Linked DNA regions of Homo sapiens. The protein of the gene in region 2 purifies or fractionates together with the protein of the main gene of each other region. This does not show direct contact. Each region holds a gene or a part of one and is shown on either strand. Other genes may lie near its edges.

Evidence for each region. The genes of interacting proteins can lie anywhere in the genome.
Region 1: the proteins of ERO1A (region 2) and LRSAM1 fractionate together in Homo sapiens (co-fractionation; one large-scale study listed by BioGRID). This does not show direct contact.

Annotation. Positions count from the first base shown.
Region 1 is NC_000009.12:127,489,510-127,493,009, reverse strand, and holds part of LRSAM1 (E3 ubiquitin-protein ligase LRSAM1), read right to left. Parts: coding exon 3,492-3,500; intron 1,796-3,491; coding exon 1,715-1,795; intron 209-1,714; coding exon 113-208; intron 1-112.
Region 2 is NC_000014.9:52,685,559-52,689,058, forward strand, and holds part of ERO1A (ERO1-like protein alpha isoform 2 precursor), read right to left. Parts: intron 1-3,500. UniProt on the Homo sapiens protein: Oxidoreductase involved in disulfide bond formation in the endoplasmic reticulum. Efficiently reoxidizes P4HB/PDI, the enzyme catalyzing protein disulfide formation, in order to allow P4HB to sustain additional rounds of disulfide formation.

The sequences.
Region 1 (3,500 bases), on a different chromosome or scaffold from region 2:
TTTTCTTTGATGAATAACTCTTACTTGAATAACAGGTGTTTCTAAAAATGGCAAGTCTGTTAAAGAAAAGCAAATGCCTGTGTGATGCTGAGCACAGAAGCCAAACACATACCAGGATTTCCCGGAGCTCTTCCTCTCGCTGCTGCTTCTCTTTGAGCAGCTGCTGGAGCAGGGAGCTGAGGGCCCAGCGCTGCTCCGAGATCATCTCCTGCGAACAAGACCACACCCCGCACCACCGTGAGCTGGCGGCAGCGCAGGAGTCCCGCAGTGGCAGGATGGAGAAGGGCCTGGCCTCCCGCTCACTCGGTTCTCTGCCCAATGCCTCCAGGCTGCGTTGGGGGACAAAGCTAAGAGGCCCTTCTGCCCCCTTACCCTAAGCCCGCATCTCTCTTCCTTGTGGGGTTAAGTCAGGCATGGGATCCTGGTGACTGATGACAATGGGATGGTAAGAAACATCAAACAAAAGAAATGACAAGCCACAGGTGCCTGCCTTTGGTCTCCCAGACAACAGAGCACATGGGCAGAAGCAAATGGCGGGGAGCAGTGTGGGGCCCCACACAAATGGAGGTGCGTGCAAACCAGAGCCTGGGGTCCCTGCTTCACTCCTGCGCCTGCTCTTGGAAACCCCATGGGGGCCCCAACAGCCAGAGCCCTGCCACACTTGTGGGCAGGGACTAGGGCACCCGCCAGGCATGATGACCGCAGCTTCTCTGAGAGCAGTCCCAGTCCCCTCATCTCTGGAGATCATTTCAAGGCTCACAAAGGGCTTTCCCTTGCTAGCTCAGCCTTCTCCGATGGCCTGATGGCACAGGCTGGGCCTGGAGGACCGCTGCCATCTTATGGAGTAGGGGAAGAAGGCCTGGAGGGGCAGAGGCCTGTCTAAGGGCACACAGCACACCTGCGGTGCACCTGAGACCAGGGATCCAGATCCCAGACCCTTCACTGCACTGAGGAGTCCATGGGATGGCTTGAGACTTCTCCACTGAGAACAGACACAGGGACAGTGACAGACCGAAGGCTCTGCTCAAACTCCTGGCACAGGCACATGTCCTCACACACCATCCCATCCAGCCCTCCGTCTGCAGCTGGAGAGGCTGAGGTTCAGAGAGGGGAAAGGGCTGCCTCTCCTCCCCCACCTGCCAAAGTTGCACAGCAGGGCTGTGCTGGGCCACACCCGGCTCCCAGGCATCCAGTCCAGGACGCCAGCTGCCAGTCCCTGCTGCCCTCTCATCTGTGTGCGCAGGACTCCCGGGCTGGAGCCCCAGAGATGCTGCCTGCAGGGAGTTACACAGATGCGGCTGGGCCCTCTCCTCCAGACAACCCGGGACACCCAAAAGCTCCAGCCCTGGAGGATGTGTGCCTGGGGGCCTAAAGCACGGCCTACAGAGAGAGACAGGAGCTCAGCGGCGGGCCCGCACCCAGCACAGGAGACACAGTGATGGAGATGAGCAGGGGAGCCTTGGCAATGAAACCCTCCTTCCTCTGACCCTCCTGCCTCGCAACAGGCTGACCACCTCTAACCTTGGCCTGCGCTGGGCCTTCTGGGGCTGGGGGGTGTCCTCTGGTGTCACAGCCACAGAGGAGCTCTGCCCTCTGTCTGCTGGGGAAGCCCTTGACTCCCAGGGGCTGGTGAGCAGCTGCCAGAGGCTGGGAGGGAGCACCAGGTGGGGGTCTCACCACGTGAAGGAGGGCAGGGGCAGGGAGCCCTACATACCTGGAGTGACTCTGTGTCCAGGGACTTCCTCTTTAACTCCAGCTGTGTCAGCTGCAATAACTCAGTTTCTATTAACTTAATCTAAACAGAAGACGAGACAGGGTTTTTTTTTACTCACATTAACCACAGTTCAGTTTTGTGCTGCTACTCTCTGGTGACCAAGTGGGTCTAAGAAGCCTTTCTGGGGAGGCTGGGGAGGCTCTGGAATGAGGGGAACCTGCGGGCCTGGGAACCTCGTCAAGGGGCTTGAACAAGAATTCGTTCCTTCATGGCCTCGCGTTCCTGGGGCATGGACGTGCTTGTTGTGGCCAAAATTGTTTACCAAGAGGCCAGCACAGGATCTCTCCTAGAGTGGGATCAGGATAAAGGCTTGTGCAATGGAGAGGGGGCTTTCCTTGGGGATTCAGGCCAGAGTAAAGCACAGACAGAGCTATCACCCAGTCTCCTGCTGGTCAAGTTCTCTTGTCCCTCGCATCGCTGTTGCAGGGGAGAGCAGAGGGTAGTGGAAGTGACTGAGTAACAGTGGTAGTAGTAGCTGGTATGTCTTGAGCACCTACTATGTGCTAGGCCTGTGCTGCACACTTGATGTATCATATTTCATCAATTCTCTGGCTGCTAGGAGGTATTATTGCCTCCATTTTATAGACAAGAAAACTGAGGCTCAGAGAGGTTCTCACTTGCTCAAGGACACAGAGCAGGTAAGGGAGAGATCCCTTTCTCTGGGATGCCTCAGCTCAGGGTTTAAGGGCAATAGCTGACCTGGTCAAAACCATCTGCAGTGAGAATGTGGGGGGCCCTCACAGGCTCTCCAGGGTGTGTCTAGGGGATTTTAGCCCTGGGCAGGGGTGGGGGTCAGACCCCATAGCCAGTACTTCTCTATCCTGTGCCCATGACCCTGTGACCCTCATCCCTAAGTCCCTATGACACCACCAACCCCTGGTCAGAGGAATGAGCTTCATGTCCGGCAATGTGGAATTGAAATTAAAGAGGGAAATTAAAAAGGTAAATTGGTCCAAAAAAAGAAAGAAAGAAAGAAAGAAAGAAAGAAAAATAGAGAAAGAAAAAAACCATGCAAAAATGCAAAATTCAGTGTGCTGAACATGATGCAGGAGTACTCCCATAGCCTGACGCTCACTTCAGCCCCAGCCCCAGCCCCACTCCACAGGCGGTGACCACCAAGCCGTGTAGGTGGGCTTGCCCAAGGCTTGAAGGTCAGCAGCCGGCCTGCGGGGGGTGGGGGGTATCTTGTCACATGAGGGAGGGTCTAAGAGGAGGACCGCCTCCTCCTGGGCCGAGGTCACTTTTCAGCAGGCGTCAGGACCACCGTGGCTCACAGCTCCCCCTGCCCTCTTCTGGGGGAAATACTATATGCCCCTGAGACGCCTCTGTCTGTCTGAGCTGTAGGAGCGCTGGGGCCTGCGCCGGCTGCTTTTCCCAGTGGGGAAGTCCTGCCTGGAGCAGGGACAGCAGAGGCAGCTGGAGCAGTCAAAGCCACACATCAGCACCAGCCTCCCTGGCCCAGGCGTGGTGGAGACCCGCCTCGCTGGCAAGACCCTCGCCAGACCCCGGAATAGGAGGTCTCTAGACACCCTCCCAGCAGCCCCGACACAAGGCTGGGAGCAAAGGGAGGTTCTGAGGGCAAGGCCTCGACCTCTTGTTGGGCTAGCAAGCCAAGGAGCTGGGGTTCAAACCTCAACTGCTGCGACCTGCCGCCCTGGAGGGCCACTCTGCAAGTCTCTGAGAGAGCAGGTCCAGGGACCCCAGCCCCAGCGCTCACCTGGCTCCT
Region 2 (3,500 bases):
CAGACATAGAGACTGCAAAGGCCAAAGGGACATATGCAAAGTAGAGACATTAAGTTACAAAAAGAAACACATGAAAAACTTGAGAGCAAGTTTCAAGGCATCCATTCTTCCCCCTGAGGAATTCATTTTTAAGGTTAAAATATATCTTCAAGCCTCAGCTCAGTATCACCTTTTTCAGGAAGCTGTCCTTCCAGTACTCCTTACCACCCGCTGGGTTAAATGCCTCTCCCAGCTGCTCCCAAGACACTCCACACACTATTATCTAAGTATTACTGTACCTCACAGCAGTGAATTTATCTATTTTACCCCTGCCCACTAAAGTATAAAATCCTTGAGTGAAAAATCATATACTTCCAGAAAGCACACAGTAGATGCTCAATAATTATTTGTGGCCTGTAATCCCAGCACCCTGGGAGGCCAAGGCGGGAGGATCACTTGAGGTCAGGAGTTGAAGACCAGCCTGACCAACATGGTGAAGCCCCATCCCTACCAGAAACATAAAAATTAGCCGGGCATGGTGGCCCATGCCTGTTGTCCCAGCTACTTGGGCGCCTGAGGCAGGAGAATCGCTTGAACCCAAAACGCAGAGGTTGCAGGGAACCAAGATCACACCACTGCACTGCACTCCAGCCTCGGCAACAAAGTGAGATTCTGTCACAAATAAATTATTACTATTTGTGGAAGAGGTGGGTGAATGAATGAATGTTGTCCATTGTCACTCATCACTGGAGACCAGCACCATACTGTCTCATTAAACATATCTAGCACCATGTCACCTATGGTGTGCTCAGTGCCCCAGAGTACACAAGCACAGGAGGCAGAAACACACATAGCAAGTAAAGCAAGCAGCAAAGGTAAACACCTTTTGTGTCTATCATTCTTCCTATCTCTATCCTAATTACAAAGGAAGCTCTAAGAAGCCCCAAACCAGAAAGAAATGCAAAAATCCTCCAGAGCAGAGGTGGCATATAGCCAAGAGACCTCAAAGGGAAAGAAGGCAGGATAAATGGTAGATTGGTAGATTTTAAAATGTTCTTGGCCGGGCACAGTGGCTCACGCCTGTAATCCCAGCACTTTGGGTGGCCGAGGCAGGCGGATCACAAGGTCAAGAGATTGAGACCATCCTAGCCAACATGGTGAAACCCTGTCTCCACTAAAAATTCAAAATTAGCTGGGCATGGTGGCACATGTCTGTAGTCCCAGCTGCTCAGGAGGCTGAGGCCGGAGAATCGCTTGAACCGGGGAGGCAGAGATTGCAGTGAGCCAAGATCACACCACTGCACTCCAGCCTGGGTGACAGAGCGAGACTCCATCTCAAAAAAAAAAAAATGTCCTGCCCCTTCCTGAAATATGGAGTAGGAGATATTCTTAACTACAACCACAGGTAGCAGGGCTGCTAAGGGAGTATAAGGGTGGCAGGAGTTTCAATGGATGAAGACAGCTCAGTAAAGGAAAGACAAGAAGATTCTCGGAAATCCATGCCATCTGACAACTCAGATAAGCCTGCCAACCTGATCCCTGGGAGAGAGTCTGGCAAAGATGGTGGCAGGACCAGTTCTAGAAACCAGAGAACAAAGCATGTTACTAGAATAGAATCTCAGGCTCATGCCTGTAATCAGCACTTTGGGAGGCCAAGGTTGGTAGGTCTCTTGAGCCTGGGAGTCCCAGATCAGCCTGAGCAACATGGTAAAACCCTGTCTCAACTAAAACTACAAAAAAAAATTAGCCAGGCATGGTGGCATACGCCTGCAGTCCCCGCTGCTTAGGAGGCTGAGGTGGGAGGATGGCTTGAGCCTGGGAAGTCGAAGCTGTGGTGAGCTGAGATTGCACCACTGCACTCCAGCCTGGGCAATGGGAGTGAGACCCTGTCTCAAAAAACAAAAAAGAATAGAGCCTCAGGAAAGGGCTAAGGTAAAATACAGTTAATAGACACAGAACAGGATCCGGGAAACAAAGCAAAATCCTATTACCTCAACTAAGACCAAAGACAGGTGGCAACCTGGAACAGGGAGGACTGGATGTTGTTTCAGGATGTGCTAAGGCTGCCTAAATAACTACTACATGGAACAATGCGGGTAAGGGGGAAAATTACTACGCTATATCCCAAAGTAAAACAGAACTCTGACCTACCACAGGAATCTAAATTTTTTTAAATGCTAATGTGTTTTAAAGGTTAGTATCCTAACATTTGAGGCTAACTGCTCTAGGCTTCAAGTAATGATAGCTTTTGGTAGAGGGCCAATCTAATAAGCAGAGATAAGAAGGCCCCAGTTGAGGAACAGTAAATAGGAGGACCAAGGTAGGCCTGACAAGTAACATGGACCACTTCAAAATTCCAGCCTTCTGTTCCAGCATGGTGGCTCACACGTGTAATTCCAGCACTTTGAGAGGTGAAGGCAGGAGGGTTGCTTGAGAACAGGAATTTGACACCAACCTGGGCAACACAGTGAGGCCCTATCTCTACAAAAAAATAAAATAACTAGCCAGGCATTGGGTGCACATCTGTAGTCCCAGCCACTTAGGAGGCTAAGGTGGGAGAATCGCTTGAGCCAGGGAGGTTGAGGCTGCAGTGAGCCATAATCATGCCAATGTACTCCAGCCTAAATGACAGAGCAAGACCTTGCCTCAAAAAAATAGAAAAGAAAAAAAAAAAGTCCTAGTCTTTTAAGAGTTAGAAAGCCTTGGAAGGCTTTCTATTACAATCTCCCAAGCAAAACAGCAAATCCCTCCATTCACATCCCTCAAGGAACAGGTAGTGTGTAACAATAGTTAGCGTGTATGTTCTAACATCAGACCTCCTTAGGTTTGAATCCCATCTCTGCCAGTCATTAGTTTTTCACTTTATCCCAGCTATTTAACCTCTCTAGGCCTTGGTTTCTCATCTTAATAGAAAATAGTAATAGTTCTCATCTCAAAGAGTTGATACCAAGATAAATAGTACAAAGTAAATTGTCAGTACATGTTAATCATTATTATTACCCTACTTCTACTTAAATGCTTCCAATGAAAGGGAAGCATGTATTACTTCCCAAAGCAGCACATGGCATTTTCATAATGAATAAGAAAAATACAGCCGAATTTGCAGCTAAAATTTCCCAAAAATTTGACATCTGTAGCCCCAATGGAACAAAGAACTAGATAACCAACAGTTAGCTGTGGAGGGAGCCTCAATTACCTTCTCTGTTGACTCTGTTTGATTTGACCAAATGCAAAAGGCAGGATAAAGGAAAATTACCACGTACCGCTTGTTCACTACTCTCATGTCAGAGGTATCCTTTAATTTGCAATGAAAGACAAAACAACACTTTCTAAAGTTTTCTTGTATACCAATATATTCTAGTCTTATTATACATTACCATTTTATTTTTTCACACAAAGCACTATAAGAATATATTCCTCATATACTTTTTTTTTGAGACGGAGTTTTATTCTTATTGCCCAGGCTGGAGTGCAATGGTGCAATCTCAGGTCACTGCAACCTCTGCCTCCCAGGTGCAAGA